Homo sapiens: one gene and its partner. The protein of the gene in region 1 interacts with the protein of each later gene in a pairwise test. Each region holds a gene or a part of one and is shown on either strand. Other genes may lie near its edges. The genes, in order: ZNF234 and CLIC6.

Region 1 (3,826 bases):
GCCCAGGTCAAACTCATTTTCTAAGTCCTATTTCCTAGGTAACATGTCATAAATGTCAAAGTTTTGACAGAATGCTTTACTGTACCACTTAACAAGGGTTCTCAGCTGTGTGGTCACTGGACCACTGGGATATGCTGAGCTATTGCTTAAACACTGACTTAAATAAAACAAATATTTTAAATAAGAGAATGCTACTGTAATTAGAAGGCAATCATTTCAAAGTCTAGATGGAGGCCAGGGGCGGTGGCTCATGCCTGTAATCCCAGCACTTTGGGAGGCCGAGGTGGGTGGATCACATGAGGTCAGGAGTTTGAGACCAGCCTGGCCAGTATGGTGAAACTCCATCTCTACTAAAAATACAAAAATTAGCCAGGCGTGGTGGTGTGCACCTGTAATCCACTGAGGCAGGAGAATCACTTGAACCCGGGAAGTGGAGGTTACAGTGAGCTGAGATAGCACCACTGCATCCAGCATGGGCAACAGAGCGAGATTCTGTTTCAAAACAAAAAATAAAAAACAAAAAAAAGTCTAGGTGGAAATGTGGAGCGTTACAAATCAAATAAATTCAAAGAGGTTGATAAAGAAAATTTTTCCCTCCTATGAAATCTAATTACAAGCATTCAGGTTGTACATGAGTTCTGTTTTTTTTTTTTTAATCACCTTGTAGAACTTCCTCCCTCTGACAACTCTCTGATGTTCTTACTATTCTCATCATTTTCATAAAATGTACCAGCAGCATGAATTTTGTGATGACTTACAAGATTTGATCGCCAGCTGAACCTCTTACCACATATCTCACATTTGTAAGGTTTTTCCCCAGTGTGAACTCGCCTATGATACTGTAATTGTGAAGACCGACTGAAGACTTTACCACATACATCACATTTGTATGGTTTCTCTCCTGTGTGGACACTCTGATGAAGTTGGAGACTTGAGGCCTGACTGAAGTGCTTCCCACACTCCCCACATGTATAGGGTTTTTCTCCTGTGTGCACCCTCTGATGCATGTCAAGGTTCAAGCTCCACTTGAAGCCCTTTCCACACTCCCCACATTTGTATGGCTTTTCTCCAGTGTGGACTTTTTGATGGGCTTGAAGGTGTGCACTCCGACTGAAGCTCTTCCCACACTCTTCACATTTAAATGGTTTTTCCCCACTGTGAACTCTCTGATGGGTTAGAAGATGCGAGGCCTGACTGAAGACCTTCCCACACTCCTCACAATTATATGGTTTCTCCCCTGTGTGGATCCTACAATGAATTTTAAGATCTGCTCTACGACTAAATCCCTTTCCGCACTCTTCACATTTGTATGGTTTCTCACCGGTATGGATCAGCTGGTGAATCTGAAGTCGTGAGCTCTGATTGAAGCCCTGCCCACACTCTTCACACTTAAAAGGTTTCTGTACACTATGTGCTTTCAGATGGATTTTAAGATATGAACTCTGACGGAAGGCTTTACCACATACTTCACATTTATAGGGTTTTTCCCCTGTGTGGACTACCAGATGCACTTGATAATGAATTTTCATTCTGAAGCTCTTCCCACACTCATTGCATTTGTATGGCTTCTCTCCAGTGTGGACTCCCTGATGGGCCTGAAAACTTGAACTGTAAATGAAACCCTTACCACACACTTTACATACGTATGGTTTCTCTCCAGTGTGGATTCTCCGATGGGCCTGAAATTGTGAAGGCTGAATAAAGCACTTACCACATTCTTCACACTTGTAAGGTTTCTCTCCTGTGTGGACCCTTTGATGGATACGAAGGTTTGAGCTACAAGTGAAACACTTACCACAGTCCTCACATTTGTATGGTTTCTCTCCTGTGTGGACCATGCAATGATTATTAAGTGCTGATCTACGACGGAAGTTCTTACCACATGTATCACATTTGAATGGTTTCTCCCCAGTATGAATTCTCTGATGTTCCTGAAGATGGGAAGCATGTATGAAGGCCCTTCCACATTCCTCACAATTGTAAGGTTTCTCTCCTGAGTGTAATTTGCAATGTACAGTAAGTGTTGATCTACGACTGAAGCCTTTCCCACATTCCACACATTTGAATGGTTTCTCTACAGTGTGGACTCTCTGATGAGTTTGAAGATGTGAGCTCTGACTAAATTCCTTACCACACACGTCACACTTATAGCATTTCTCTCCCATGTGGACTCTTTGATGAATATGAAGGGCTGAGATGTAACAGAAGCTTTTTCCACACTCATCACATGTATGAGACTTCTCTCCTGAGTGTAACTGTTGATGAAGATCAAAGTTGAAGACATCAGTGAAGGATTTTTTGTACTCATCACATTGGTAAAATTTCTGTCCTGTGTGAGTTGTATATAGTCCTGCCCTAACCTGGCAGGACAAATCACCTTGTCTGGGGAACCGAGAAATACTTATCATAGAGTCTTCATACTTGATTAAATCACTTGCAATCTGTTTCCAGATTTGCCCCCAGTAAAGCTCTTCATGTCGTCCTGCTTCTGGAACAGTCTCCACCTCACTTTGGATCTTGTCTGCTGTAAGGACAGAGAATTCAGAGATGTGGAGGCTCTGTTAAAAGTTTTCAAGATGTCATACTTAGGCGAGAGCATGCGATTTTAACAAATCCAGAGAAGGTCCAGTTTGTGTAATGGTCTTTTCCACTGTGTATCATGATCTCTGATTTCCATGCCTAGATAAATCAAGAGGTGGTCCAATTGGCTGCTATCTACCAGGCATTAGACCATACCAAGTCTCCTATGTGAGACACAAGTTAGAAGTCAGAGTTAATTTTAAAAATTAACATGATACAAATTGTACTGCCATTTCCATCGAATTTTAAAGTCAGTGTAGAATAATAAATAGTAAATTATCTAAATATAAAAAGCATAGGCCAGGCATGGTCATGCCTGTATATCCCAGCATTCTGGGAGGCTGGGGCAGAAGGATAGTTTGAGGCCAGGGGTTTGAGACCAGTCTGGGCAACAAAGCAAGAATGTACCTCTATTAAAAATATTAAAAGTTAAAAAAAAATGTAGATAATATAAATCAACAAGAACTTCAAGGGAAAGTAAGAAAATAATCAAATATTTTGCAGTTTAGGTTCATGTTACATATTCAAATTATTAAATAACCTGAAATGTTTATATTTACATGTTCAAAATACAGTTGACCGTTGAACAACACAGGTTTGACCTGCATGTGTTCACTTATACATGGATTTTCTTCCATCTCTGCCATCCCTGAGACAGCAAGACCAACCCCTCCTCTTCCTCCTTATAATTTTCTTAATAACATTTTCTCTTCTCTTTATTGTAAGAATAAAGAATTCTTCCTTTATTGTAAGAATATAGTATACAATACATTATAACATACAAAATATGTGTTAATTGACTATGTTATCAGTAGGTCTTTCAGTCAAAGTAGGCCATGAGTAAAGTTTTAGAGGGGAGTCAAAAGTTATACTTGGATTTTTTACTGTGAGGGGAGTTGGTGTCCCTAACCCCCAAGTTGTTCAAGGATCAACCATATTCTTGAATATTCTGCATAACATATACACTTAATCTTATTTTTCTGTGTTGACAGACATTAAATGAGCTGACAACTATTATAAACTCTTGACCACTTCTAATATAACTTAGATTTAAAATGTTTAAACCCTTCTGAAAGGTTTATCCTTAATAATATTCCAAAATGTTTAATCTTGTATAAAGAGATATAAATATTTGGAAATTATTTTTTAAATGAACTCTTCCACAAAAGTTTAGCAGAAAGACGTACCTCTAAGGAAATTTTTACAGAGGAAAAACTTACTCCCCTCCTGCAGGAATAGTCATTTA
Region 2 (3,826 bases), on another chromosome or scaffold:
CTCTCTGGCTGAAATGCAAGCACATTTTAATAAGTAAAAGGAAATGCTCCCAATGTGATTAACATCAGAATTTTAAGAATTGTTTGGGTGGCGAGGGGCTTGGGAAAGAAGGGGTGTGTGTGTGTTTCTTCCCTAGTGAGAAGGTGCTGTTTCTGGCTTTTTTCAAGACCCTGGGACATAACCTCAGGACACCAGCCCCTGAGAGGCTGCTGGGAAGAGCTGGAGCGCAGTGCTGCTGTGTGACCCCAAATCTGCTCCTCTCCATCACCTTGGTTTTAGAAATTTCCCGTTGCTGTGGTTGTAAGGATACATGATTCTGGCACACGGCCTCTTAGCACAGTTTTGATGGACAGTAGCAGCTTCTGGCTAGTCTCCCTGTTTCAGTTCTCTGTCCTCTCCAATCTAGTCTCTTTGTAATAGCCAGTGAGCTGCGGACAAGATCTGATCATTTTATTTCTTTGTGTAAAATTCTTCAGTTGTTTATTGCAGAATTTCAGGTAAATCCCCACTCCTTAGGCAGCCCACAAGGCCCTTTGTGATGTTATTTCTGCCTTCTTTCTTTCTGGCCTTGGCATTGCTGGGTGTCCCCACCCTTTGTTACCTGTGGTCTCGCTATGCCACCTGGATTAAACTACTTACTGTTCCTTGAGGGAGCCACGTTCTTTCCTGCCTTGAAACTTTCTACATTATGTACCCTCTGTCTGAATGGAGTTTCTCCTCCTCGCCCCTGTCTGCCCTCCTGCCTAGTTATCTGCCACAAGTCCAAGAGTTAGCATGGATGTCATATCTTCCAGTCCCAGTCGGATGACCCTGTTAAGGCATTGCCCTCAGCCTGCTATGTCTCTTTCCTCAGCTGTGTGAAATTCATCATTCTATCTCCAGCGCAGAACACAGGTGTGGGATGTGGTGAAGGCTTGAATGGGCGGCTAGCTGCTGGATAGTGTGGTGATCAAGAACACGGACTTTAGAGCCAGTGGGTCTGGGATCAAATCTTGGCTTTGCTAATTTCTTGCCGTGTGACCTTGGGCAAGTTACTTAATCTTTTGGTATCATTGTGGTCTCATTGATAAAATGGGGACGGTAATAGTACCTAGCCCTTGAGGTTACCGTGAGAAATTGAGAATTAGATTACACAAAGCACTTAGAAAAGTGCCTGGCTGGAAATAAGCTTAGTACACATGTGAGTTCCTATTGTTACATCTGTGCTGCTCGCATAACTTGCACTGATTTTGCACAGAAACAGTTATCCCTGCCATTACTTATTTTATTTATTTTTAGGGAAAATCCCTCTAGGTACGTAATTACCTCCAATCTCTAGGGATAAGAATGTTGTGAAAAGTAAAAACAACTTGCTTCCTCAAATACTGCTTGGGAGGAGTTTGTGTGGGCAGAAGCATGTGGCCTAGCACCAGCAGCGGCCCAGCACGAGCAGCTTACCCACAATGCTTTATTCTGATGATTGATCTGGTGCTCAGTTGCTAACTTTTTTTTTTCTTAAGGAAACAGATAGATCTCCAAATGATGAGATTGGTTAACTTTTTTATTTTTTTTTTAATTGAGACAGGTTCTTGCTCTGTCACCCAGACAGGAGTGCAGTGGTGCTATCTCAGCTCACTGCAACCTCCACAGACTGGGTTCAAGTGATTCTTGTGTCTCAGCCTCCTGAGTCGCTGAGACTACAGGCATGCGCCACCACGTCTGGCTAATTGTTTTGTGTTTTTGGTAGAATGGGGTTTCGCCATGTTGGCCAGCCTGGTCTCAAACTCCTGACCTCAGGTGATCCACCCACCGTGGCCTCCCAAAGTGCTGGGATTACAGGCTTGAGCCACCACACCTGGCTGAGATTTGTTAACTTCTGAGGGGTCACTTATCATGAGCCTCACAGTATTGATATTGTGTCTCAGTTTCTTCTTATCCTACCAATTATGCTCTTTGAAAACAAAATGAAACAAAAACAAAAAAGACAGACATCAAAGCAAAAAACAAAACTAAACAAACAAACAAAAAAACACCCTTTAGACTCATATTTTCTGAGTTTGAAATACTTGATGTAAAATCTGGAAATTAGTTCAGAATAGGATTTCTTTGCCAGAATTAGCCTTTTCTAGGCTCCTTTTTTGGGCTCAGTTTTGTCTGGGTTCTATTCTACAGTGGACACCTGAGCTGGGTTTTGTGAACATGCCTAGATGCGTCTTCATGGTGGGTTTTGTATGGCATAGCTGGAGTGTGGAATTCACAGCTGGGTTTAAAGGAAAGTACTGCAATATTCTCTCAAACATTCTCCTAGCCTTCATATGACAGCTGAGCAAACACATTTTAAAATCAGTTAGCCCATATTTTATTTGGGAACTCCTAGCTTTCACATTTCTTCCAATTTTTTTTTTGAGACAGGGTCTCACTATGTTGCCCAGGCTGATCTCCAGCTCCTAGGCTCAAGCAGTCTCCCTGTGTCAGCCTGCTGAGTAGCTGGGACCACAGGCACACACCATTACACCCAGCTAGTTTTTTCAAAAAAATTTTTGTAGAGACAGAGGTCTCACTTTTTTGCTCCAGAGGGTCTCGAACTCCTGGGCTCAAGTGACCCTCCCACTCTGGCGTTTCAAAGTGCTGGGATTATAGGCACAAGCCACCATGCCTGGCCTCTCTTCCTATTTTGTTAAAAATAAATATATTGGTTACAAATATACCAGAAAGTCATGGCTAACTATGTAGTAACATGTAATAATAATTGTCCCACATTTGCTTCTAATTAGCCATCTAATATATTCTCCATCTTTATGAGAATTGTCATGTTATTAATTTGTCAGTTTGTTTTATTTTACAAGCATGCAAGGATGCATTCTTGTACAGAAGCCAGGAACATATAGAACCAGCCAAGAAAGGTCTTAAATTATTTTGTGGTAAATTAATTGCTGATTATGCTAATTTTTAGTTTTGTTTTCTCAAAGAAGTGTTAATTATTTGTCATCAAATTATAGGGTAACTCTGCAATATATTTAGTAAGAAAGGTTCTTTTTCTTTCCTCATAATAACAAAGGGTAACAACATAATCACATAATCACACAACAACATAATAACAACAGGCAAAACACTAGCAGCAGAGAGTTAAGTAAGAACTTCATTTAAGTAAGGAGTTCAGCGGTAGTGGAGATTTAGTCGCCAAGGAAGTCTTGCTTACGGCTTTGGTTCCCCTAATCTGGCGTGTAAGCTTTGAGTCAGGGTCTTTGGGTGGGACAGTCTGAGCTACGGCTTTCCTGGCAAATTTGACATGACTTAAAAAACTTCAGTGTTGACCAGTGATTAGTCCTGGGCCACCCAGGATTTAGACACCACCTGTTTACTTGTAAACATGCAGTTATTGCTGAGCTAAAAAAACTTGCATTTGTATTCACATTTGGGTTCTCCAAAGAGGTGAAACTGACCCGATGAAACACAGTAAAACTCAAGAAGGACATGGCCTTTGAATAAGCACTGTCACCCAGAAATGAGCCCCCGCCCCTCCAAAAAAAAAAAAAAAAAAGAGCCTTCCAAGCATTGCCATACCACAGGGCTGGGCAAGAATGAGCCAGGACCAGCGTCTGATGGACTCCTGGTAGAACGGTAAGCTGTGGCTCTCTGTGGACATGTCACTGGGAGAGAGCATGTTGGGACTTGTTCTATGGGGCTTGGTCTCCAGGGAGCTTGAAAGGGAGATGTTATTTTCACAACTATGTGTTCTGAAGGAAAGTGAGCAAAGATGCATTTCTGAGACTTTAATTCTCCCCTAAAAACAAATTTTTTGTAATTTTTTTTTATTGTCTTAGAAAACCTGCCTACAAATTACACA

The links.
Region 2: the proteins of ZNF234 (region 1) and CLIC6 interact in a two-hybrid assay, tested with the Homo sapiens proteins (one large-scale study listed by BioGRID and IntAct).

What each region holds. Positions count from the first base shown.
Region 1 is NC_000019.10:44,154,950-44,158,775, reverse strand, and holds part of ZNF234 (zinc finger protein 234), read right to left. Parts: intron 2,525-3,826; coding exon 657-2,524; 3' UTR 1-656.
Region 2 is NC_000021.9:34,671,751-34,675,576, forward strand, and holds part of CLIC6 (chloride intracellular channel protein 6), read left to right. Parts: intron 1-3,826. UniProt on the Homo sapiens protein: In the soluble state, catalyzes glutaredoxin-like thiol disulfide exchange reactions with reduced glutathione as electron donor. Can insert into membranes and form voltage-dependent chloride-selective channels.